Homo sapiens: one gene and its partners. The protein of the gene in region 6 purifies or fractionates together with the protein of the main gene of each other region. This does not show direct contact. Each region holds a gene or a part of one and is shown on either strand. Other genes may lie near its edges.

Region 1 (4,001 bases), on a different chromosome or scaffold from region 6:
GAGCACAGAGTAGGCCATCAGGAAGTGTGAGAAGGAGGTCTCAGGGGAGAGCTGGCGACTTTTACTGAGATAAAGACCCCAGGGGAAGCAGGTTGGGGTAAGAAAGGGATGAGCTGGGTTTGAGCCTAGGAGCCTTGGGCCATCCGCGCAGGGGCAGGACGTCAGGGAAGCCAAGAGCCTGGCTGCAGCTAGAGGGAGACAGGCGGTCGGGAGGCGTCCTGCACAGCACATGGGAGAAGCTCCTAGAAGAGAGGGCCCTCTGACTTTCTCAGCCTTACCCTATTCTCCCCGCTGCTTCCGCCATCTAGAAGCTCCCAGAATTTCAAGCTCCAAAAAGCCTACAATAGAGGAGGTTCTCCTGTATCCACTCCATGGCTTTTGTGAAAGGAAAATAAATCTTGGGACCCCCCCAAATCACTACGCTAAAGGAAAAAGTCAAGCTGGGAATTGCTTAGGGCCAACCTGCCTCCCAGTCTATTCAAAGTCACCCCTTTGCTGGCTGACACAGATGCATATCTGATTGCCTCCTTTGGAAACGCTAATCAGAATCTCAAAAGAATGCAACCGTTTGTGCCTCACCTTCTGTTTCTTGGAAGCCCCCTTCCTGCTTCACGTCTTCCTGCCTTTGCTTCAAGTTGCCCCGCCTTTCCAAACAGAACCAATGTACTTCTTACATACATTTATTGATGTCTCATGTCTCCATAAAATGTATAAAACTAAGCTATGCCCAGACCACCTTGGGCACATGTCGTGAGGACTTCCTGAGGCTGTCACGCGCGCGTCCTCAACCTTGGCAAGTAATTGAGATCTGTCTCGGAATTTCTGGGTTCACACTTTTTGCTCTCAACATTGGGAAGAGGCTGCTGTCGCCGTTTCTGAGGACAAAACGAGACAGTGATGGGCTGAAGTCCGATTATAAAAAGGTCCAGAGACGAAAACTAACTTCTGAGTTCACGAGGGCTGCCTTCCGCAGGGCGCTGCTTTGTTCCCGCAAACCCGGGCGGAAGCTCTGAGCTGCGCCGCCTCACCTGGCGGGGCCGGAGCATGCGCGGCTGGTTTTCAAGGCCGGCGCCTGTAGCCGCAACGGCCATTTTGGATTAGGGCAAGGAGAGAACTGGGCCTGGAGCGGGGGCGCGGGGAGGGGGGCGTCGTCGTGGGTACAATTGCGCAGGGGCAAAGGTCGAGAGGTCGCGCTGCCGCCGTTTTATTTGAAGACATCGTCCAGTTCTGACCATGGACTCGCAGCCATCGGCCCTTAGTTTCCATCCCCTCTAGTGGGCCTTCGGGGGCTCTACTGACGTCCCTCCTTCCCTTGGTACCGGGCCGGGGAAGTGTTCTCGGGCGCGGGAGGTTCCGCATGCCCAGGCCTGGCCAGGGGAGATGACCGATCCGTCGCTGGGGCTGACAGTCCCCATGGCGCCGCCTCTGGCCCCGCTCCCTCCCCGGGACCCAAACGGGGCGGGATCCGAGTGGAGAAAGCCCGGGGCCGTGAGCTTCGCCGACGTGGCCGTGTACTTCTCCCGGGAGGAGTGGGGCTGCCTGCGGCCCGCGCAGAGGGCCCTGTACCGGGACGTGATGCGGGAGACCTACGGCCACCTGGGCGCGCTCGGTGAGAGCCCCACCTGCTTGCCTGGGCCCTGCGCCTCCACAGGCCCTGCCGCGCCTCTGGGAGCTGCGTGTGGAGTTGGGGGCCCCGGGGCCGGGCAGGCGGCCTCCTCGCAGCGTGGGGTTTGCGTTCTTCTCCCCCAGGAGTCGGAGGCAGCAAGCCGGCGCTCATCTCCTGGGTGGAGGAGAAGGCCGAACTGTGGGATCCGGCTGCCCAGGATCCGGAGGTGGCGAAGTGTCCGACAGAAGCGGACCCAGGTGGAGTATCGGGTGCTCAGTCCCATGGGGACTTCTCTGTTCCTGTCCCATCCCGGTACCCTCTGCCACCTCCAGCTACCTGCTTAGCAGTTTCCTCTCTGAACTGCCTCCTCAACTGCGGCCAGGAGGCTGAGCCCCTGCCTGGCTCCGGGATGCAGCCTAGAAAGGGGCTGTGATGGGGGCTCTGGCCCTGCCATACCCGCCCCTGAGTCCTCACCTCTGCGTGGTCACTACACTCCGGGGACTTTTTTGTTTTGTTTTGTTTTAGAGACAGGGTCTCTGTTGCCCAGGCTGAGGTGCAGTGGCGCCATCATAGCTCACTGCAGTCTTGAACTCCCGGGCTCAAGCAATCGGCTCAACCAATCCTCCCGCGTGGGCCTCCAGAGTACCTAACACTGTAAAGGCACTCGCCACCACGCCTGGCTGGTTTTTTTTTTTTTTTTTTAATTAAAAAAATTTTAAAGAGGTAGAGGTCTTGGTGTGTTGCCCGAGCTGGTCTCGAACTCTAGCGATCCTCTATCTCGGCCTCCCAAAGCACTGGGATTACAGGCATGAGCCACTGCACCCGGCCTCTAGGTTCTGTTGACTCTACCTCCACATCATGACCCGCTCCAGTCGTTTTCCTGCACTATGGTTCCTATGCCCCCACATCCCGCCCTCCCATTTCCTTCCTTTAGTTCTTGCCTCAGCTTTTGCAGAGTATCCAGCCCCACTGAACTTGGCCATGCCCTCCTGGTTCTGCCTTTCTTGGTGCTGTTCCTTCTGCCTGGAATATCCCCAGGTGTCCGCTTCTTATTCCAGATCAGGCCCAGATGTTCACGTCATCTCTGCCCTTCCCCCGCGGTGACATTTCCCCAGCCCGGAGGCGGAATGGACTGTTCCCTCCCTCCAGGCTCTGTCTGGCTCTGCAGCCGAGGAACAGGTGTCACTCCTCCATCTCCTAGGAGCAGTCGGGGGTCCAGCAGGCCTGTCCCTGTCCACGCGGGCTGTGGGATTCAATGACCAGGATGAGCCAAGCCTGAACTCTCGCCTCCTTATCTTTCAGCAGATTCCAGAAACAAGGAAGAGGAAAGACAAAGGGAAGGGACGGGAGCCCTGGAGAAGCCCGACCCTGTGGCCGCCGGGTCTCCTGGGCTGAAGGCTCCCCAAGCCCCCTTTGCCGGGTTGGAGCAGCTGTCCAAGGCCCGGCGCCGGAGTCGCCCCCGCTTTTTTGCCCACCCCCCTGTCCCCCGAGCTGACCAGCGTCACGGCTGCTACGTGTGCGGGAAGAGCTTCGCCTGGCGCTCCACACTGGTGGAGCACATTTACAGCCACAGGGGCGAGAAGCCCTTCCACTGCGCAGACTGCGGCAAGGGCTTCGGCCACGCTTCCTCCCTGAGCAAACACCGGGCCATCCATCGTGGGGAGCGGCCCCACCGCTGTCCCGAGTGTGGTCGGGCCTTCATGCGCCGCACGGCGCTGACTTCTCACCTGCGCGTTCACACTGGCGAGAAGCCCTACCGCTGCCCGCAGTGTGGCCGCTGCTTCGGCCTGAAGACCGGCATGGCCAAGCACCAATGGGTCCATCGGCCCGGGGGCGAGGGGCGTAGGGGCCGGCGCCCTGGGGGGCTGTCTGTGACCCTGACTCCTGTCCGCGGGGACCTGGACCCGCCTGTGGGCTTCCAGCTGTATCCAGAGATATTCCAGGAATGTGGGTGACGGCCTAAAAAGTGACCATCTAGACATTGTGGGCGGCCCGAGATGGGCTCAGGGGCCCGAACCTCTGCAGCGGCCTGCAGGGAGGTCCCAGAATCCACCGCAAGAGCTGGCCTGGGGTGCGGACAGTCTGATCTTGGGCTCTCAGCAGCCTCTTCTGCCAGCACCTTGCTCCCCGCTGCCCTGGGCTCTCCAAGGCCCCCTTTGCTGAGGCAGGGCTGAGGTGAGAACCCCCCAGACCTCCATACAGGGAAGCAAAAGCTGTTTCTCCTCCCAGAGATGCTAAGAGGATTGAGGTAGAGAAGAACCTTGTTTTCTCTGTTGTCTTTTTCTTTTTACTTTTTTAATTTTTTGAGACGGAGTTTTGCTCTTGTTGCCCAGGCTGGAGTGCAATGGTGCGATCTCGACTCACTGCAACTTCCACCTCCTGGAGTCAAGCGATT
Region 2 (3,500 bases), on a different chromosome or scaffold from region 6:
CCAACATGGTGAAACCCCATATCTACTAAAAATACAAAAATTAGCCAGGCATGGTGGCGGGCGGCTATAATCCCAGCGACTGGGGAGGCTGAGACAGGAGAATCGCTTGAACCTGGGAGGTGGAGGCTGCAGTGAGTCAAGACTGAGCCACCGCACTCCAGCCTAGGTGACAGAGGGAAACCCATCTCAAAAAAAGGCCAGGCATGGTGGCTCATGCCTGTAATCCCAGCACTTTGGTTTGGGAGGCTGAGGCGGATCACCCGGGATCTGCCCACCTCAGCTTCCAAGGTAGCTGGACTACAGGCATATGCTACCACGCTTGGCTTTTTTTTGTTTATTTTTTTTTAGATGGAATTTCACTCTGTTGCCTAGGCTGGAGTGCAGTGGCATGATCTCAGCTCACTGCAACTTCTGCCTCCTGGGTTCAAGCAATTCTCCTGAATCAGCCTCCCAAGTGGCTGGGATTACAGGTGTGCGCCACCATGCTGGGCTAATTTTTTTGTATTTTTACAGATGAGGTCTCACCATGTTGGCCAGACTGGTCTAGAACCCCTGAACTCAGGTGATCTGCCTGCCTCGGCCTTCCAAAATGCTAGAATTACAGGTGTGAGCCACCCCGCCTGGCTAAATTTTTTGTATTTTTAAAATAGAGATGGGGTTTCACCATGTTGCCCAAGCTGGTCTCGAACTCCTGGGCTCAAGTAATCCGCCCACCTCTGCCTCCAAAGTGCTGGGATTACAGGCGTGACCCACCGTGCCTGGCCAACTCTTGAAATTTTTAAAGAGAAACCCAGAGGGAGAAGCTCAAGCAGAGTACAGATGGTCTGGAATAGAGATCCCCACTCACAGTCAAGATGAGACTAGGTGGACATCATAATGATGACACTCTATCATAAGCTTGCTCAAGAACATGTCAAGGAGCTACAAGAGGCCAGGGAAGGGGCACTTAATGTAGCCTAGAAGGGGCAGGGACAGGAAGAGGTCAAGGAGGCTTCCCAGAGAGGATGCTTCATGAGCTTAAAGTTAGAAGGACATATTAGCCTTAGGACATAGAATATACAAAGACACAGAGTCTTCAGCGAATCCAGAGGACTGCAGTGAGAGGAGGCAGCCCCATAAGAAGTTAAGGTTGATCAGGATTCAGAGACAGGAAGGGGCGGAGACGAAGCTGATGCTCAAGATTCTGCCTGAGGGACAGCTAGTGATGGCCACAGCTACTCTTAGGACAGAGCTCCTAGGACAGAGGGTGAACAGAATCCTGGTAGACATATAGAATCCACTGTCAAGGTGAAAGGTAGGCGAAAAGGCTAACAAACAACTGGATCTTGAAAAAGAAAATAATAAAACTTTATTTCAAGACAATAAAGATCTAACTGAATGAAGAAATTGATAATATAAAATTATCAATTCTCTAAAAACTGATCCAGAAATTCAATACAACCCTGAGAAACAATAACCTGAAAATACTAGAAAAAGACACAATCTGAAAGGTACTGCCTGTAATCCTGGCTACTCGGGAAGCTGAGCCCAGGAGTTCGAGACCAGCCTGGGCAACATAGCCAGATCCATCTCTTAAAAAAAAAAAAAAAGTAATAATAATAAATAAAAAGAATGTGTGGATTAGCCTTGGAGAGTATGTAAGAGTAAAAAGGATGGGCTATGAGATAACTGATGAAGCCAACATAAAAGTGAAGATCAGAGTAAAAAGAGAACCAAAGCCCAGTGAGAACAGAGAAAGAGAATCTAAGACGGCCCAATGCTCAAGCACAAAATATGAAAACTCTGTGCTGAATCGTGAGTTCATATTGAAGGGAGGTTAAGAGTGTAGCTCTGGAGTCAGAACATCTCAGTTCAAATCTTGCCTGTACCAAGTCAGCTGATGCCAGAGAAATGATTTAGTTGATCCTAGTCTCCACTTCCTCATCTGAAAAACAGAAACTCTCAGATTCTGTTTCATAGGCTGTGATGAGGGTTAAATAGGAAAATTCTTGGCTGGGCACGGTGGCTCATGCCTGTAATCCCGTTACATTTGGGAGACTAAGGCAGAAGAATTGCTTGAGGCCCAGAGTTCAAGAGTAGCCTGGGCAATATAGCAATATCCCATCTCTACAAAAAAATTAATAAATTAGCCGGACGTTGTAGCATGAGCCTGTAGTTCCAGCTACTCTGTAGGAGAACTGCTTGAGCCCAGGAGTTTGAGGCTACAGTGAGCTATGATGGTGCCACTGCGCTCCAGCCTGGGCGACAGAGGAAGACCCTGTCTCTTAAAAAAGGGGAAAATTTCTATAAAGCACTTGGCACAGTGCTAGACACTACATAAGAGATCGGTAAATTGTGGGCCATCATCAGTTATCATTATGGTCACTGTTGTATTTGAAAATTAGGAATGAAAGGAGTGACCTTACAATGGTTTCTGTGCTGTGATATAGAGAAACCTACCACAGGGACTCAAACAGTAAAATGAAATGATGGTTTTTTTTGTTTGTTTGTTTTTTTGAGATGGGGTCTCGCTCTGTCGTCCAGTCTGGAGTACAGTGGTGTGATCTTGGCTCACTGCAACCTCCACCTCCCAGGTTCAAGCAATTCTCCTACCTCAGCCTCCTGAGTAGCTCAGATGATAGGCACCTGCCACCACACCTAGCTAATTTTTAAATTTTTAGTAGAAATGGGGTTTCACCATGATGGCCAGGCTGATAACTCCTGACCTCAAGTGATCCGCCCGCCTAGACCTCCCAAAGGGGAATGATGTTATCAAGTGATTATGAAGATGTGGAGCAATGGAAACTTTCACATGTCCATGGTCAGAAAGTGAAATGGTACATTCTGCAGAACTGCTGGGCAGTTTCTTTTAAAGCTGAACACACCCACACAGTGTGGCTCATGCCTATAATCCCAGCACTTTAGGAGGCCAAGGAGGGAAGATCAGTGCAGGCCAGGAGTTCAAGATGAGCCTGGGCAACATAGTGAGACTCCATTTCTACAAAAAATAATAAAGAAAAAAAGAAAGCTGAATATACAACCTACTCCATGACCTGATATGTACACACGAGTATATTCTAACAGAATTTACTGTTAACACACAATTCAGAAATCAGTATTTACATCCACCAGAAAATATGAACAATAATACTCTCAGCAACATATCCAAAACCTGAAAACAACAGGAACATCCATCAGCAGGGTAATGGACAAATGGATGGCAGTTTCACATACAATGAGAAACTACAACATATTGAGAATGAACCAACTCCGACTGTATATAAACACCTCAAAAGAATAACACAGACATGATGATCAAAAGAAGACAGATATGTCAGAGAGCACACTGTGCAGTTCAACAACAGCCAACCAATCTGTGCTGATGAAGTCTAAATATGAGCTAATAGAATCAAAGAAGCTATCGAGGGCATAAAACCCTGATGAGGAGCTGGAGATAGCCTATGTATTGATGTAGGTGGTAGTTACTTGGGTTTATACATAAGCAAAAATTCAGTGAGTGG
Region 3 (4,224 bases), on a different chromosome or scaffold from region 6:
CACACCATTGCACTCCAGCCTGGGTGACAGCGTAAGACTCCGTCTCAAAAAAAAGAAAAAAAAAAAAAGAAACAAATAGCACTTCCAGCCAGGTGCGGTGGCCTGCTGCAACACAGCAAGACCCGCTTTCTAACAGCAGCAACAGCAAAGCACTTCCCGGATAAGGCCCTAGGCTACTACTGGTGTCTCCCACTTCCCAGGGCGCTGTGCACGCACACATTTTAAGGACAAGTCTCGTTTACCACATAAAGTTTTTATTGAACTCAAACTCAGGGGCTCCAAAGCCTGAGGAAGAAGAGGGAGGCTGGGGTTTGCACGCAGAGGCCCAGGCCCCACCCCGGGGCCCCACTCCCCACCCCACCTACCTTTTACCCGCTCCTGACTCAACGAGAGTTTCAGCAGCTACCAATCTAAGCTAACCCACTCTAATTAGGTAATCCCCTGCCCTCCCCCCTCCCTGCTCTAGCAGTTGCCAAGCCAGGCACCCACCAAGGAGCCGCGGCTGAGGCCAGCCCTCCGCTGACCTCTCTCCATTTCTCCCAGGGCCTCCCGCTGCCGGCCTGGCCTCCCTCCAACCCACTTCCCACAAGTCTCCAGGGCATGTCACTTCCTCCACCCTGGTTCTCTTCTTCCAGCATCCTCAGCTCCTCCATTCTCCTGCGGCTTCTCCACTATCCTCCCTAAAGGTTCCTCTAGCTCCCTGGCCCCTTATCTTCTGCCCACACCTCCCACCCCTGCTGGGGCCCCAGGTCAGCGCCGGCCCGCCGCGTGGGTCCGCTGGTGGCGGATGAGGTCGGAGCTCTGGGAGAAGGCCTTTCCGCAGTCATCGCACTTGTAAGGCCGCTCGCCACTGTGGACCCGGTGATGCTGCAGAAGCGTGGAGGAGCGGCAGAAGCCCTTGCCGCACACGGCGCACCTGTAGGGCCGCTCGCCCGTGTGGGAGCGCTGGTGCTGGATGAGAGTGGAGGAGCGATTGAAGGTCTTGCCGCAGTCGGGGCAGCTGTAGGTGCGGCCTGGCAGGTGGGTGCGGGCGTGGATGGCCAGCACCGAGCTCTGGCCAAAGCGCTTGCCGCACTCAGGGCACTTGAAGGGCTTCTCCCGGGCGTGGCTGCGGGCATGGGGGATAAGGGCCGACCGCTGGGAGAAGCTCTTGCCGCAGATGCCACAGCTGAAGGGCCTCTGACCGGTGTGCACCCTCTGATGGCTGCGCAGGGACGAGTTCTGGCTATAGCACTTGCCGCACTCGGTGCAGCTGTAGGGCCGCTCGTGGCTGTGGGTGCGCTGGTGTCGCAGGAGGTAGGAGCTGTCGCCGAAGGCCTTGCCACAATGTGGGCACTTGTAGGGCTTCTGGCCAGAGTGAGTGCGCTGGTGGCGAAGCAGGTAAGAGCTGTCGGCGAAGGCCTTGCCGCAACGGGGACATTTGTAGGGCCGCTCGCCAGTGTGGGTGCGCTGGTGTTTGATGAGGTCAGAGCTCTGGGAGAAGGCCTTGCTGCAGACCTCACATTTGTAGGGCTTCTCACCGGTGTGGATGCGCTGGTGCTGGATCAGGGTGGAGCCCCGCCCGAAGCTCTTCCCGCAGATGCCACAGATGTTAGGCCGAGGGCCCTGCCCACCCCTGGCCCGGCCACCCCGCCGACCTGGACCTCGAAGGGCTCCTGTGAGACCCAGGGGATTCTGAAGCATCTCAAACTGCGGTGTAGACAGCAGGGCCCCTGTGGGCATCTCAAAAGGTGGCCCTATGGGCAGGTCCCCTGTGGGCTGCTCCCCAAACCCCTGAGTGAAGGAGTCCAGGGGGTGAACTCCTACGGAGATATTCAAAGGACTCTTTTCCTCGGGGTTCAGAAGCATCTCCGCACCTTCCTGGAATTTGGAACTTTGAGCTTCAAATTCTGGGCTTTGGGTTTTGAGCTCAGTGTTCTGGGATTCATATCTAGAGCTCTCAGATTCATAGCCAGGGCTCCGGGGTTCATACCCGGGGCTCCGAGGTTCATAGCCAGGGCTTTGGGGTTCATACCTAGGGCTCTGGGATTCAAACTCAGGGCTCTGAGAATCTGATTCAGGGCTTCTGGGTGCAAACTCAGGGCTTGGGGGCACAAGCCCAGGGCTTCGGGACTCAAACCCCGGGCTTTCAGGCTCAAATCTGGGGCTTTGGGGTTCAAACTCTGGGCTTTGTGGCTCAAACCCAGGGCTCTGGGGTTCAAGCCCAAATGGTATCTCTTCGACTTCATAGTCCCCACTGCCTTCTTGCTGAGAAATTTCCTCTTCCTCATTCTCACTCATGTTGCCTGCAGGATGAGAGAATCCAGATCGTGTGAGACCTGGAAGGTCATTTGGTCCATTAGCAACCACACACCTCCCACCTCACATGCAGGGTCGCTGGCCCCTAGACAAGTGCTGAAATTCCCACGCCCCCCTCAGCTGACCCAAGACACCCCAGTCCCCGCCGGCCCCTCCTTCGAGTCCCAGGTGTCCCAGCCCCGGGCCCTCGCTCCCTCCCTGGAGCCACAGCCCCTTCTCCTGCGCGCAAGTCCACTCCTCGGACGGGCGCTCCCTCCTCACCTCTGAGGTACCCTTCGGGGCTCCTCATTTCGTCAGAACTCTGCACATCCTGGGGCTCGAGGCCCCACGGCAACGCCTCCCGCTCCATCCCCGCGGGCTCCCAGTGCAGCGGCGGCGGCGATGGCGGCCGATCCCGCGACCCGGCCTCGGTTGCCCCGAGCCGCGGGCCCCCGCCTCCCGCCCGCTCAGCGCCGCCCAGGGGACTCGGCGGCCCAGCCCGGGCCCCCGAGGCCGGACGTCTTGACCCCGCGCCTCTCCAGCGCGCCGGGCCCCTCCCCTGCCCGCGGCCCCGCCCCCTCCCAAGGTCTCGGCCTCCCCGTGGCCCTCACTGGCCCCCGCGCGTCGCGGCCTCGGGGATGAGGGGCTTCGCGACTACCCCGGCGGCCCCCGGCCCCCGCTCCCGCCCGAGCCCCCACCTTCTGGACCCCGGCCCCGGGCTGGGCTGCACTGTCCAACGGCCGCCCAGCACCCCCCCACCCTCCCCCGCACAGGAAGTGTCCGTCCGCGGCCAGGTCCCCCCGCCGGCTCGCGCCGCGGCCTCTCTAGGAGCCGCTGGAGGTGGAAACTCGTTGGCATTAACCCTGGGCTGGAGGGGCCCGGCCACGGGGTGGGTGAGGACCGGACGCCCCGGAGCCCGCGGGGCTACCGGGGCAGTGTGTGTGCCTATGTTCTAGGTCTCCGTCCCTCCAGAGGCCCGTCTGTCCATCTCCCGGGCCCCGCGTCGTCGGTGCGTGTGGCCAAGGGCGAGGCGACAAGCGAGACCAAGGTCAGCGAGAAGGAGCGACGCTTCCCGGCGCCAGCGGGGGCGGTGTCTCGCTCCCTCCCCTCCCGGGCCTCCGGGTCAGCTCCGGCAGCGCCTCGGGAACCGGGACGGACTCCCCTTGGCCTCGCCGAGGTCCTTGAGCCTGGGACCCCCTCCAGGAACTCCGCTCCCCGGCACCTGCGCGCGCCCGCTCCCGTTCCTCCGGCCCCCACCCAGCTCGGCTCCCCTGATCCTCCTCCTCCCTCCTCCCTCCTCGAGGGCTAGGATAGTTGCCAAGGAGACAGCCCCGCCCCGGCTCCCAGAGGCACAGCTTCTCCGCCCCAGGAAGCCCGGCGGTTGGCCGATGGGGCTCGTGCTCTAGCCGCCCCGCCTCCTCCAACCCCGCGGACGGCTGGGCGTTAATGGTCGCCAGGGAACGCCAGGCGCCTTCCTGATTGGCCGGGAGTGCTGTGGTCGGGTCCGCCTCCCCTGTCGGCCAGAAGCGCCTTCAGGAGGTAGTGGGAGGGAGGTGCCAGGCATCTCCCCTCCAGCCCGGCCTGTGCCATCAAAACTTTTCCCGCCCCCACTTAGCCTCCATTATGTTTTATGAAAGCCAGAAGATCTGAGGACAGACACCCTTCCTCCTCGTCAGCCTCACACCCCTTGCCTCTCCCCTCCACCTTCCCCAGCGCCTGAGTTTAACTCAATCCCTGGCAGCCTTAGTCCCTGTTGTTAGATTTCCTCACAGGGAGGCAGGATTCCTTCCAGGTGAGGGTGATACAAAGGAGAATTGGACTGAGAGAACCATCTGGCCTTCGAGGCATCTAACAACTCTCCAGTCTTGTCTGACTCGAATGGAGTCTTGCAGAGGAAGGGAACCTGAGAAACACTGCCTCGGGCGCAGCTTTGAATTGAGGAAGTGA
Region 4 (3,500 bases), on a different chromosome or scaffold from region 6:
AAAGTTTGGAAAAATTGCAGCCTGACAATGGAACAGAAAAAAAAACCCAGCCAGGCGTGGTGGCTCATGCCTGTAATCCAGCACCTTGGGAGGCTGAGGCAGGCGGATAACCTGAGGTCAGGAGTTTGAGAGCAGCCTGAGCAACATAGAGAAACCCCTTCTCTACTAAATATATAGAATTAGCTGGCCGTGGTGGCACATGCCTGTAATCCCAGCTACTCGGGAGGCTGAGGCAGGAGAATCGCTTGATCCTGGGAGGTGGAGGTTGTAGTGAGCCAAGATTGCGCCATTGCACTCCAGCCTGGGCAACAAGAGTGAAACTCTGTCTCAAAAAAAAAGAAAAGAAAAGAAAAACCCATTTTCTGGGGAGAAATTCAAACCAGCTACAGAAATTTGTGAGTAACGAGAAGCCAAATGTTAATCACCAAGACAATGGAGAAAATGTCTCCAGGACACATCACAGACCTTCATGGCAGCCCCTCCCATCACAGGCCTAGAATCCTAAAAGGAAAAAATGGTTGGTTTCCTGGGCCTGGTCCAGGGCCCCTTGCTGTATGCACCCTAGGGACTTGGTTCCCTGTGCCCAGCCACTCCAGCCATTGCTAAAAGGAGGCAAGGTACAATTCGGGTCATGGCTTCGGAGGGTGCAAGCCCCAAGCCACAGCAGCTGCCATGTGGTGTTGGTCCTGTGGGTGCACAGAAGACAAGAATTGAGGTTTGGGAACCTCTGCCGAGATTTCAGAAGATGTACAAAAACGCCTGGGTGTCCAGGCAGAGGTGTGCTACAGGGGCGGAGCCCTCATGGAGAACCTCTGCTAGGGCAGCGCAGAAGAGAAATGTGGGAACTGGAGCCCCCACAGAGAGTCCCCACTGTGGCACTGCCTAGTAGAGCTGTGAGGAGAGGGCCACCATCCGTCCTCAAGAACCCCAGAATGGTCAATCCACTGACAGTTTGCACCACGCACCTGGAAAAGCCACAGACACTCAGTGCCAGCTGTGAAAGCAGCCAGGAGTGGGGGCTGTACCTTGCAAAGCCACAGGGGCAGAGGTGCCCAAGGTTGAGGGAGCCCACCTCTTGCATCAGCATGACCTGGATGTGAGACGTGGAGTCAAAGGAGATTCTTTTTTTCTTTCTTTTTTTTTTTTGAGACAGAGTCTGGCTCTATCACCCAGACTGGAGTGCAGTGGCATGATCTCGGCTCACTGGAACCTCCGCCTTCTGGGATCAAGCAATTCTCCTGCCTCAGCCTCCCGAGTAGCTGGGATTACAGGCGCGTGCCACCATGCCTAATTTTTTGTATTTTTAATACAGACAGGGTTTCACCATGTTAGCCAGGATGGTCTTGATCTCCTGACCTCATGATCCGCTTGCCTCGGCCTCCCAAAGTGCTGGGATTACAGGTGTGAGCCACCGCGCCTGGCCAAGGAGATTATGTCAAAGCTTTAAGATTTAATTACTGCCCTACTGGATTTGGGACTTGCATAGGGCCTCTAGCCCCTTTGTTTTGGCCAATTTCTCCCATTTGGAATGGGTATATTTACCCAATGACTGTATCTAGGAAGTAGCTAACTTGTTTTTGATTTTACAGGCTCATAGGCAGAAGGGACTTGCCTTGTCTCAGATGAGTTTGGACTTGTACTTTTGAGTTAATGCTGGAATGATTTAAGACTTTGGGGGACTGTTGGGAGGGCATGATTGTTTTAAAATGTGAGGATATGAGATTTGGGAGGGGCTGGGGGTGGAATGATATGGTTTGGCTGTGTCCCCACCCAAATCTCCTCTTGTAGTTCCCATAATCCCTGAATGTCATGGGAGAGAGCAAGTGGGAGATAATTTAATCATTGGGGTGGTTACCTCCATGTTGTTCTCATAATAGTGAGTTCTCATGAGATCTGGTTTTATAATGGGCTTCCCCCACCTTTCCCCCACCTTTAGTCTGCACTTCTCCTTGCTGCTGCCATGTGAAGAAGGACATGTTTGCTTCCCTTCCACCATACTTGTAAGTTTCCTGAGGCCTCCCCAGCCATACTGACCTGTCAATGAAATCTCTTTCCTTTATAAATTACCCAGTCTTGGGTATGTCTTTATTAGCAGCATGAAAACAGACTAATACAGAGCCCTGGGAAAAACTAGGCTGAAGAGGCTGGGCACGGTGGCTCATGAGGTCAGGAGTTCAAGACCACCCTGGCCAAGATGGTGAAACCTTGTCTCTACTAAAAATACAAAAAAAAATTAGTCAGGCCTGGTGGTGGGCACCTGTAACCCCAGCTACTTGGGAGGCTGAGGCAGAGAATTGCTTGAACCTGGGAGGCAGAGGTTGCAGTGAGCCATGATCGCACCACTGCACTCCAGCCTGGGTGACAGAGCAAGACTCCATCTCAAAAAAAAAAAAAAAAAAAAAGAAAGAAAGAAAAACTAGGCTGAAGAGGTCTCAAGTACTCCTTCCTTCACCAAACTTGAGTCAAGCTCCTCAGAGCCCTCTTTTTGACTAGGGCTTGGCACTGGCCTGCAGAAGTCAGTTTCAGCAAGAATCCATCTAAGGTAGTTTATAGAGACTCCTCCTACCTTAATATCCAATCAAGTTCTTTTTCTCCCACCTATGAGACCCAACCAAGTTCCATTCTCTCCCTCACCTTGTACATTGGCTATAAATCCAATAATATTCCTGCTGCATTCAAGGCTGAATTCAATCTCCCTCCCCTATTACAGCTGTCATGACTCACTGCAATTGTGCTTAATAAACTTTTCCTTGACATTCTTAACAAGTTTCCAGTGCAATCTCTCTTTAACAGGGAACAAGGCTGTAAACTTGAGACCCTGGTTCATTTATCTGAAATGCATAGGGGATGACAGGCTCCCTCCCACTGGGGATGAAGGAGCTGGGAACCACACATGCCATTCTGCTGGGCCCACCCAAGTCTGAATCCATGGAGGGGGAGGGTGTCCTGAGAGTACCTCCCACCCACAAACCCAAAACACCAGGCTCAGATTTCTCTCTGGATGGCCACTCCCTGTTGTCACCCCATGATCTGGGTGAGATCCAGGATTGCAGGTGCACAACTGCCCAGAGAGAGGTCCAGGAGGTAGACTGCCTCCTACAGTGATGGGACAGGATACCTGGGAGTCCTGGCTGCCAATTCAGCCCCCACCCTGATGGAGTGTGATGGAGGGGACTGAGACTCAGGCTGCTTCTGGATAAGATGCCCCACCAGACACAGGATTTGCAAGTCGTTCTTCCACTTGGTGAATTATCTTTTCAAGTTCTTGGTGTCCTTTGAAGAACAAAAATTACCAATTTTGATGAAGTGTAAACTTTAGTTAGTAACATATTGGCTCACCAATTCTGATCATCATCATATATGATATATTGGTTCATCAATTATATGATATATATGATATCATATTTACGTACTTTGGGAGGCCAGGATGGGAGAATCACTTGAGCCAGGAGTTAGAGATCAGCCTGGACAACATAGTGAGACCCCCATCTACCAAAAAA
Region 5 (3,500 bases), on a different chromosome or scaffold from region 6:
GGGGATTACAGGCATGAGCCACCGCACCCCAGTGACATCATTTTTTCATATCGTCAGTTAGAGAACTGCCATTTCTTGCTCATAATCACTGTTCCGAGATTTGGAATCTGAAAAGGAAACACTTCTGTAAATAAACCAGGCATGGTTACAGCTCATTGTGAACCTATAATCTAATAATATTTGTATAATTTTTAATAATTTATCATGATTATTCTTGATCTACATTTTAGGGGAAAAATGGGAAGACCCGAATGTTGAAGATCAACACAAAAACCAAGGACGAAATCTAAGGTGAGTTGCACTCACAAGAAGTAACAGTGTTCCTTGAAAGAATCTTAAAAATGTTATGGCCGGGCACGGTGGCTCACACCTGTAATCTCAGCACTTTGAGAGGCTGAGGTGGGTGGATCATGAGGTCAGGAGTTCAAGACCAGCCTGGCCAACATGATGAAACCCCGTCTCTACTAAAAATACAAAAAAAGTTAGCCAGTTGTGGTGGTGGGCGCCTGTAATCCCAGCTACTCTGGAGGCTGAGGCAGAGAATTACTTGAATCCAGGAGGCAGAGGTTGCAGCGAGCCGAGATCGCGCCACTGCACTCCAGCCTGGGCAACAGAGCGAGACTCTGTCTCAAAAAAAAAAAGAAGTTGTGACACTTTTAAAACAAGAAGCAAGCTTAGCTCCAAATTTATTTATTTATTTGTTTTATTTATTTTTTCTTGAGATGAGGTTTTGCTCTGTCACTCAGGCTGGAGTGCAGTGGCATGGTCTTTGCTCACTGCAACCTCCACCTCCCGGGATCAAGTGATTTTCCTGCCTCAGCCTCCCAAGTAGCTGGGATTACAGGGACGTGCCACCACACCTGGCTAATTTTTGTATTTTTAGTAGAGACAGGGTTTCTCCATGTTGGCAAGGCTGGTCTCAAACTCCTGACCTCAGGTGATCTGCCCGCCTCAGCCTTCCAAAGTGCTGGGATTACAGGCACGAGCCACTGGGCCCCAAATTTATTTATTATCAGAAAATGTTTACCAAAAATGTTTTCTCAAGTGACACAGATGTCCACTGGCTGAAAAATATTATACTTGGGCCGGGCACTGTGCCTCACGCTTATAATCCCAGCACTTTGGGAAGGTGAGGTGGGCGGATCACCAGAGGTCAGGAGATCAAGACCAGTCTGGCCAACACAGTGAAAACCTGTCTCTACTAAAAATACAAAAATTAGCCGGGTGTGGTGGCACACACCTGTCATCCCAGCTACTCAGGAGGCTGAGGCAGGAGAATCACTTGAACCTGGGAGGCAGAGGTTGCAGTGAGCCCAGATCGCACCACTACACTCCAGCCTGGGCGACAGAGTGAGACTCCATCTCAAAAAAAAAAAAAAAGAAGAAGAAGAAGAAAGAAAAATATTGTACTTGGGAACAGTTTTGTTTGTTTGTTTGTTTTGTGAAACAGAGTCTCGCTCTGTCACCCAGGCTGGAGTGGAGTGGTATGATCTTGGCTCACTGCAACCTCTAACCCCTGGGTTCAAGCAATTCTTCTGCCTCAGCCTCCCAAGTAGCTGGGATTATAAGCGCGCACTACTATACTGGGTTAATTTTTGTTTTGTTTTGTTTTTTTTGAGACGGAGTCTCGCTCTGTCACCAGGCTAGAGTGCTGTGGCGCAATCTCGGCTCACTGCAACCTCCCACTCCCTGGTTCAAGGGATTCTTCTGCCTCCGCCTCCCAGGTAGCTGGGATTACAGGCATGCATCACCATGCCCGGCTAATTTTTGTGTTTTTAGTAGAGATAGGGTTTCACTATGTTGGCCAGGATGGTCACGATCTCCTGACCTCGTGATCTGCCCACCTCGGCCTCCCAAAGTGCTGGGATTACAGGCGTGAGCCACCATGCCCAGCCAATTTTTGTATTTTTTAGTAGAGATGGGGTTTCACTATGTTGGCCTGGATGGTCTCGATCTCCTGACCTCGTGATCTGCCCGCCTCGGCCTCCCAAAGTGCTGGGATTACAGGGGTGAGCCACCATGCCCAGCCAATTTTGTATTTTTTAGTAGAGATGGGGTTTCACCATGTTGGCCAGGCTGGTCTCAAACTCCTGACCCCAATTGATCCACCCACCTCGGCCTCCCAAAGTGCTAGGACTACAGGCATGAGCCACCATGCCAAGGTGTGGAAACAGTATTTTATTTTATTTTTATTTTTATTTTTGAGACGAAGTCTTGCTCTGTCACCCAGGCTGGAGTGCAGTGGTGCCATCTCAGCTCACTGCAAGCTCCGCCTCCCAGGTTCACGCCATTCTCCTGCCTCAGCCTCCCGAGTAGCTGGGACTACAGGCGCCCACCACCACGCCCGGCTAATTTTTTTGTATTTTTAGTAGAGACGGGGTTTCACCCTGTTAGCCAGGGTGGTCTTGATCTCCTGACCTCATGATCTGCCCGTCTCGGCCTCCCAAAGTGCTGGGATTACAGGCGTGAGCCACTGTGCCCGCCCAGAAACAGTACTTTAAAGCCTCACATATAATTTCCGGAAGCCAAGGTGAGCAGATCATTTGAGCTCAGGAGTTCGAAACCAGCCTGGGCAACAAGACGAGACCCTGTCTCTACAAGAAACAGAAAATTCAGTCAGTTGTGGTGGTGCATGCCTGTAGTCCCAGCTACATGGGAGGCTGAGGTGGGAGGATTGATTGAGCCCGGGAGGTCAAGGCTGCAGTGAGCCATGATTGCATCACTGTACTCCAGTGCGGGTGACAGAGTGAGACTCTGTCTCAAAATGAAACCAAAAAAAAAAAAACCCATACCTCAATATTACTGTTTTGATAATAGCTATCAGTGACACAAGCCCTCTTGCAGAACATTGAGTATATTCGTTTTTAAACAAGTCAGACGGGGCAGAAAACTATTTCCCTGAAAATGATAAAAATTTAGTTCTGCTGCCGGGTGCGGTGGCTCACGCCTGTAATCCCAGCACTTTGGGAGGCCAAGGCGGGCAGATCACTTGAGGTCAGGAGTTCAAGACCAGCCTGACCAGCATGGTGAAACCACGGCTTTACTAAAAATACAAAATTAGCTGGGCGTGGTGGCGCATGCCTGTAATCCCAGCTACTTGGGAGGCCGAGGTAGGAGAATTGCTTGAAGCTGGGAGGTGGAGGTTGCAGTGAGCTGAGATCGCACCATTGCACTCCAGCCTGGGGAACAAGAACAAGACTCCGTCTCAAAAAAGAAAAAAGAACTTTAGTTCTACTACCCGATAATACATATAAAATCATTAATACACAACCAGTATTACCGTGCTTCTAATTTTTTACAGAAGCCATACGGGAGAGAGACTCTGTGAAGGTAAAGAAGGTAGTCAATGTGCAGAAAACTTCAGTCCCAATCTCAGTGTGACGAAGAAGACTGCCGGAGTAAAACCATATGAGTGTACTATCTGTGGAAAAGCCTTCATGCGTCTCTCATCCCTTACTAGACACATGAGGTCTCACACTGGATACGAGCTATTTGAGAAG
Region 6 (3,500 bases):
CTAGCTTGGTCTTAACTTCTCGAGCTTGCATTTCCTCTTCTGTGAGTAGAATTATTGGGAGGGTTACAAGACATAATGTAGGCAAAGTTACTGGCACAAAGCAAGTAAACATAAATGGGAGCTAATAAGCTGCAAGATATATTTGATTTAACTTGAATACTGAAATAAATAGTAAGAAGATATTCACATGGCTTTTCCCCTTACTTTGGTTCAGGTGTCCATTCAAATGTCACCTCCTCAGGGTGGCCACCTTTCCCACCAATATCAAATAGGTTCTTCTGCCCTATCTATTCCCTTACCTTGCTTTAGACTTCTTTGTAGTCCTTAACAGTACTCGACATTGTGTTATGTGTTTATTTGCTTCTTGTGTGTTCCCTCACTATAGTGCATGACATTCTCCCCTTGAGGTGGAGGTAGAGGGTTTTTTGTCTGTTCATTGTTAGATCTGGAATAGGGCCTGGCATAGTAGTAGGTGTTCAATAAACATTATTCGAATAAATCGAAACTTCACACTAATTAAGAGCAATTTTAGCATAGTGCTTCCTAGTCCTCAGTACTATCATCAGGTGCTAGTATTGATAGCTAATTTGTATGAATGGTATTATACTTTCTAATAGCTCCACGAGGGCTATGAATTTGTAAAATTTGTTTACTATTATCCCAGTTCCTAGAACAATGCTTGTTACACAGTAAGCCCTCAATAACTATTTGGTGAATATGTGACGCATGTCTTCTTAACTAATAAACATTCATTGAACCATTCTTATTTGCTGGTACTGTGTTTGGCACCCCAAGTTTATAATGATAATCAGTATACATGTGTTCTGCCTTGTCTGGTATGAAAGACAGGCATGAAACAAATTATTCCATGGAATGAGAAGATCAACAATAGAAAGGAGTGTATGGGACACAGGGAGCACCATGCTACTTGAAGTGTGGCCTGCTGACTGCTGCTGGTTCATGGGCTATTTGGACCAGTCTGCAATGAATAAATACAGAAACTGAGAGTACATGTTTAGAAATAGCAATTTGACATTAGTGCAACATTATTTTTATTGTGCTTTACAGAAGTATTGGTCTGCCGTAGATTGGAAATTTACAAAAAAGTATCCTTCATCATAATTTGAGAAGTACTGGCACAGGGGAGGAGCAACTAATTATATTTGGGTAAATCATAGCAGGCTTCCCAGAGGAAGTGATCCTAAGCTAGGATTTGACAGTGAAATAAGAATTTGCCAGGAGGGAATGTTTTTGTTGTGTAAAGAGCTTGTATAGAGGCACCAAAGTGTAAGTAACACTGTGTGACGTGTGTGGGGAACTGGTGGAATAAAGCTGGGGTGTAATATTTTGTGGTGGGGGAGAGGTGTTTATGCAACAGAACTGGACAATGATCAGATTGAGCAAGACCTTTCATGCTCTGTCGAGGAATGTAGACTTGATTCTCTCAGTGAGGGAAGCAGGAGGGGAAGACACATGATTAGATCTGAGTTTAGGAATATTTCCTCCTACCACATTAAAAGGGCTGTGACCGTATGTTCCATTATCTTTGATTCACCCCACACTAAGTTGGATTAGTTCTTTTTTCTGTACTTTTTATGCCCTCAAATATTTATTTTCCTGTCTAATACAATGGCCAAACTTTGTTATCTCTGGAGTTTTCTACACACTCTTCTTTTAAATCACAGCTTCATTTATAGCAAACCCTGGGCCTTCCTCAGAGGCTGGGCACTAACCCCAGCATCTAGGCACAGCCCTATGGCAGACAGAACTGGGCTGGGGCCCACATGGAACTCAGTGTTGACATGTGAACATCAACAGCTCACATTCTCAGGCGAAAACTGACGCTGGTTGTCTGTCCCCACATCCTCACCCTCTGTTCCTAAGAGGAAATAAGGCTTTTTCACTGATCTGTGGTAAGAAGGGGTATGTAAATAAATGGACAGTCAGAGTTTCATGCCTAGTGCTGGGCCTCATGATTGAGCCCAGAGTACTGTATTTTACTTCACTATCTGCCAGTTGGCTTCCTCATACTTTGATCTTCCATTCACTCAAAACACACGCATAGAGCCTCCATCACATGGTGGGCACACTTCAGGGACTGGGGAGACCACAGTGACACAAGATGACCTGGTCTTGCTGTCAGGGAGCTCACGCTCTTAGGCCCTCCAGCAGAGGCACGTGCTGAACTTGGCTTTGTACTCATGGTACCCTACAAAGGCTTGCAGTATAAAGAGCCTTTAATACCCATCTGTTGACTCAGAATACAACGATAGCAAACAGCTTTACTGCACAGGGACAGGCACTATTCTAAGCATTCCCTACATGAGCTCTGGAGGTAGGGCCTAGTATCATCTCCACAGTACAAGTGAACATAGTGAGACACAGGATTTAAGTAACTTGCTCAAGGTCTCAAAGCGAGCTGGGGTTGGTGCTTGGAATGCAACTCCACCATTTGCTCTATGTGCTGTGCTATGCTATGCTCTGCAGCAGTGAATGGTGAATGAAGCCCACAGTACCAGTGTGTTAGCGCGATGGCCCCCAAAACAGCAAATTTAAATTTTTTTGTGGTTGTTTTTATTGTCCCATTCATACCCCAAATTTCTGCTCTTGCTTCGTCTAACATTTAACCAACACTTTGTTATCCAGAATAGCTCAACCTTTAAGGTTGTTTCTTGTTATTGTGGAAAATGGATTGGTAGTCTATAAAAAAATAAGGAATTATTGGCTACCACTCTCCAAAGAAACATGAATGCTTTGATTGGAATGCTTGAGGTTGAAACAGTTAAGGTACTCAAGACAGGACCGTGCTCACTGCACTGTGGTACTTACCTACGCACTGCTCCCCTCGCTTCTGATATCCAGGAGGGCACTGACATGCAAAGGATCCCCGTAAATTGATGCACACTTGGTCTGCTCTACAGTTGTGCGTCCCTGCAGTGCACTCGTCTATGTCTGTCAGAGACATGCAACACAGAAAGAATTGTCAGTTGTGAAGATGTTGATATTTCCTCCATTTTGCCACTTCTTAAGCTAAATTTTTACTTTATTCTTAAAAGTTTATAATGTTCTTGCATTGGAAATGTTTAAAATTATAAATTATTTCAAGTGTTCAGAAAATAATTTTGCAAATACCAGTGAGTACTGCTCAGATTTAACAAATGCTAACATTTTGTCATGTTGGTCTTGGCTCATTTTGTTTTGTTAAGAAACATTTCAGATACAGCTAAAGCCTCACACCATCCTCATCCCTTGACCCATCAGCTACCACTGTCTCGGTAGGAATGAATCCTTCCCTGAGATGTTTTTGTACTTTTGTTAGACAGGGATGCATCCATTAGAACATATGGTATTGTTTTGTATGTTAAAAATTTTAATAGATTGTATGATACTTGCTTTTCCATCCAATATATTGTATTTGAGATAATTTCCATTGACAAATTTCTAAAAATCTAACCAATAACTGGGTGTAATCAACCTTTAATATTATACGTTCCCTGTAG
Region 7 (3,500 bases), on a different chromosome or scaffold from region 6:
ACCCGGCCCTCTACTCGTTTGTAGTCTTTATGCATTGTACATTTGAGTTGTGTGCACCGCAAAACTGATGTACCACCGGGCGTGGTGGCTCACGCCTGTAATCCCAGCACTCTGCGAGGCCGAGGTGGGCAGATCACTTGAGGTCAGGAGTTCAAGACCAGCCTGGCCAACATGGTGAAACCCCATCTCTACTAAAAATATAAAAATTAGCCGGGCATGGCACGCACCTGTAATCCCACCTACTCAGGAGGCTGAGGCATGAGAATAACTTGAACTCGGGAGGCGAAGGTTGCAGTGAGCCAAGATCATGGCACTGCACTCCAGCCTGGGCAACGGAGTGAGACTCCATCTCAAAAAAAAAAAAAAAAAGAACTGATGTGCCTAGAATAAATCACTTAGCTAATGAGCTTACCCAGCCAACTGCCCAGCAGCAACATCCAAGGAAACTTTTTTTTCTGTAATTTGCAGAGGCAATCATGTGATCCAGTGGCATCTGTGAATTTGGATTCACCAAGTTCTCAGAGTGTATCGCACATGAATGTTATGTTACTACATGACGCTCCCTGTGTGATGCCAGCAGGTGCTGCATGACTCCCTGGTGAATTGCCTTGTTTCCCAGGCCAGATCACAGAAGCTGAGCAGCCCAAACAATGGTTTCTTTCCTGGTCTTAGGGTGCCCTCCTCTGGATAGAGTATTAAATTTTGTAACAGTTACGTAAAGTTAATCTGCCACTGAGGAGGGCTCTTACATACATACATACATACATACATAATTTTTTTTTTTTTTTTTTTTTTGCAACAGAGTCTTACTCTGTTACCCAGGCTGGAGTGTAGTGACAGGATCTTGGCTCACTACAACCTCCACCTCCCAGGTTCAAGTGATTCCCTGCCTCAGCCTCCCAAGTAGCTGGGATTACAGGTGCCTGCCACCACTCCCAGCTAATTTTTGTATTTTTAGTGGAGACTGTAACTTGTAATTTTATGGCAACTATATTTTTTTAGGTTTAACATGTGGCCCTAAAGAACCAGAAACCGAAAGGAACCAGTATTCCTGCCCCACAGAGTCCCATCTTTAGTGAGGCTATTTCTGGAGTTTATATGATGACCAAGATACTAGGTATGGCCCCAGTTCACCATGTTGGCCAGGCTGGTCTCAACTCCTGGCCTCAAGTGATCCGCCTGCCTTGGCCTCCAGAAGTGCTGGGATTACGGCCGTTAGCCACCACGCCCGGCCAGTCGTTTTAAATATTCTAAAGAATGCTCTCCAGCACAGCTACCTCATTATTTCTTGTTTATTTTAGTCTTTGGTGCTCAGGCCTTTGTTTTAGTAGGTGAGATGACGTTGCATCTCCCCTGACTCAATTTTTAAGTAGTCCTCAACTTGGGCACTCCTGTGGTATGTACTGAGTACATACAGACTTATTTGGCCAAAGAATCCTTTATTCAAATTATTGGTTATAGTGTGTTTTGTTTTTTGTTTTTTGTTTTTTTTTTGCAACGGAGTCTCACTCTGTTGCCCAGGCTGGAGTGCAGTGGCACAATCTCGGCTCACTGCAACCTCTGCCTCCCACGTTCAAGCTATTCTCATGTCTCAGCCTCCCATGTAGTTGGGATCACAGGTGCCTGTCACCACGCCCGGCTAATTTTTGTATTTTTAGTAGAGACGGGGTTTTGCCATGTTGGTCAGGTTGGTCTCGAACTCCTGACCTCAGGTGATCCACCTGCCTCGGTCTCCCAAAGTGCTGGGATTACAGGCGTGAGTCACCGCACCCCGCCTTAGTTATAGTGCTTTTGAACAAATTTTGGGAAATAATTCTGTATGCATTTTTTTCCGTGCCTTACAGTTTCCCTTTTCATGCTTTGGTTTGCTTCCTGATGTCTTAATTCCACTGCTAAACACTCCACCAACATTTCTTTTGGTGGAGCGTGGTGGTGCGTGCCTGTAGTCCCAGCTACTCAGGAGGCTGAGGCAGGAGAATCGCTTGAACCCGGGAGGCGGAGGTTGCAGTGAGCCGAGATCACGCCACTGTACTCTAGCCGGGGCAGCAGAGTGAGACGCTGTCTCAAAAAAAAAAAAAAAAAAAAAGACTAATCAAAGCCTTAATTTCATAACTATGAACCGTGTTTACAGAATGTTAGCACTAAAGTCCATTTTGTTTGTCAGAAAACTACTTATGATCTCTCTTTTTTTTTTTTTTTTGAGACTGAGTCTTGATCTGTCACCCAGGCTGGAGTGCAGTGGTGCAATCTTGGCTCACTGCATCCTTCCCCTCCCAGGTTAAAGCGATTCTCCTGCCTCAGCCTCCTGACTAGCTGGGATTACAGGTGTGCAACACCACACCCGCCTAATTTTTGTATTTTTAGTAGAGACAGGGTTTCACCATGTTGGCCAGGCTGGTCTCGAACTCCTGACCTCAAGTGATCCGCCCGCCTTGGCCTCTCAAAGTGCTGGGATTACAGATGTGAGCCACTGCACCTGGCACTTCAGTTTGTTTTGTTTTTATTTTTTGAGACAGAGTTTTGCTCTGTCACCCAGGCTGGAGTGCAGTGGCGCGATCTCGGCTCATTGCAACCTCTGCCTCCCATGTTCAGGGGATTCTTGTGTGCCTCAGCCTCCCAAATAGCTGAGATTACAGGTGCACACCACCATGCCCAGCTAATTTTTGTATTTTTAGTAGAGACAGGATTTCACCATGTTGGCCAGGCTGGTCTCAAGTCCAGGCCTGCCTCGGACTCCCAGAGTGCTGGGATTACAGGCATGAGCCACTGCGCCCGACCTCAGTTATTTTTAATGTACTAGTTAATTACACCCTTCGAGCATGACTCAGGTCATACTGACAGGCCCAGTCATTTGACTAGTGAATTTTCCTTTTTTTTTTTTTTTTGAGACAGAGTCTCGCTCTGTCACCCAGGCTGGAGTGCAGTGGCGCGATCTCTGTTCACTGCAAGCTCCACGTCCCTGGTTCAGGCCATTCTCCTGCCTCAGCCTCCCGAATAGCTGGACTACAGGCGCCTGCAACCACGCCCGGCTAACTTTTTTTTGTATTTTTAGTAGAAACAGGGTTTCACCATGTTAGCCAGGATGGTCTCGATCTCCTGACCTCGTGATCCGCCCGCCTTGGCCTCCCAAAGTGCTGGGATTACAGGCGTGAGCCACCGCGCCCGGCCCTCCTCTTTTTTTTTTTTAGACGGAGTCTCGCTCTGTCGCCCAGGCTGGAGTGCAGTGGCACAATCTCAGCTCACTGCAAGCTCCGTCTCCCGGGTTCACACCATTCTCCTGCTCAGCCTCCCAAGTAGCTGGGACTACAGGCACCCGCCACCACGCCTGGCTAATTTTTTGTATTTTTAGTAGAGATGAGGTTTCACCGTGTTAGCCAGGATGGTCTCGATCTCCTGACCTCGTGATCCGCCCACCTCAGCACCTCCCAAAGTGCTGGGATTACAGGCGTGAGCCACCATGCCTGGCCTTGACTAGTGAATTTTCATTGCTCAAGCTAAAT

Evidence for each region.
Region 1: the proteins of EFEMP1 (region 6) and ZNF747 purify together in Homo sapiens (affinity purification with mass spectrometry; 2 studies listed by BioGRID and IntAct, with this or other methods). This does not show direct contact.
Region 2: the proteins of EFEMP1 (region 6) and ZNF460 purify together in Homo sapiens (affinity purification with mass spectrometry; 2 studies listed by BioGRID and IntAct, with this or other methods). This does not show direct contact.
Region 3: the proteins of EFEMP1 (region 6) and ZNF768 purify together in Homo sapiens (affinity purification with mass spectrometry; 2 studies listed by BioGRID and IntAct, with this or other methods). This does not show direct contact.
Region 4: the proteins of EFEMP1 (region 6) and ZNF627 purify together in Homo sapiens (affinity purification with mass spectrometry; 2 studies listed by BioGRID and IntAct, with this or other methods). This does not show direct contact.
Region 5: the proteins of EFEMP1 (region 6) and ZNF791 purify together in Homo sapiens (affinity purification with mass spectrometry; 2 studies listed by BioGRID and IntAct, with this or other methods). This does not show direct contact.
Region 7: the proteins of EFEMP1 (region 6) and ZSCAN21 purify together in Homo sapiens (affinity purification with mass spectrometry; 2 studies listed by BioGRID and IntAct, with this or other methods). This does not show direct contact.

Annotation. Positions count from the first base shown.
Region 1 is NC_000016.10:30,532,059-30,536,059, reverse strand, and holds the start of ZNF747 (zinc finger protein 747), read left to right. Parts: upstream 1-1,201; 5' UTR 1,202-1,380; coding exon 1,381-1,609; coding exon of another isoform or gene 1,610-1,749; coding exon 1,750-1,863; intron 1,864-2,908; coding exon 2,909-3,561; 3' UTR 3,562-4,001.
Region 2 is NC_000019.10:57,286,985-57,290,484, reverse strand, and holds part of ZNF460 (zinc finger protein 460), read right to left. Parts: intron 1-3,500. UniProt on the Homo sapiens protein: May be involved in transcriptional regulation.
Region 3 is NC_000016.10:30,523,767-30,527,990, forward strand, and holds ZNF768 (zinc finger protein 768), read right to left. Parts: upstream 2,801-4,224; 5' UTR 2,648-2,800; coding exon 2,560-2,647; intron 2,286-2,559; coding exon 751-2,285; 3' UTR 238-750; downstream 1-237. UniProt on the Homo sapiens protein: Binds to mammalian-wide interspersed repeat (MIRs) sequences in euchromatin and promoter regions of genes at the consensus sequence 5'-GCTGTGTG-[N20]-CCTCTCTG-3', consisting of two anchor regions connected by a linker region; the linker region probably does not contribute to the binding specificity.
Region 4 is NC_000019.10:11,603,983-11,607,482, reverse strand, and holds part of ZNF627 (zinc finger protein 627), read right to left. Parts: intron 3,274-3,500; exon of another isoform or gene 3,119-3,273; intron 1-3,118. UniProt on the Homo sapiens protein: May be involved in transcriptional regulation.
Region 5 is NC_000019.10:12,624,420-12,627,919, forward strand, and holds part of ZNF791 (zinc finger protein 791), read left to right. Parts: intron 1-230; coding exon 231-291; intron 292-3,301; coding exon 3,302-3,500. UniProt on the Homo sapiens protein: May be involved in transcriptional regulation.
Region 6 is NC_000002.12:55,878,783-55,882,282, forward strand, and holds part of EFEMP1 (EGF-containing fibulin-like extracellular matrix protein 1 precursor), read right to left. Parts: intron 2,953-3,500; coding exon 2,830-2,952; intron 1-2,829. UniProt on the Homo sapiens protein: Binds EGFR, the EGF receptor, inducing EGFR autophosphorylation and the activation of downstream signaling pathways. May play a role in cell adhesion and migration. May function as a negative regulator of chondrocyte differentiation.
Region 7 is NC_000007.14:100,052,774-100,056,273, forward strand, and holds part of ZSCAN21 (zinc finger and SCAN domain-containing protein 21), read left to right. Parts: intron 1-3,500. UniProt on the Homo sapiens protein: Strong transcriptional activator. Plays an important role in spermatogenesis; essential for the progression of meiotic prophase I in spermatocytes.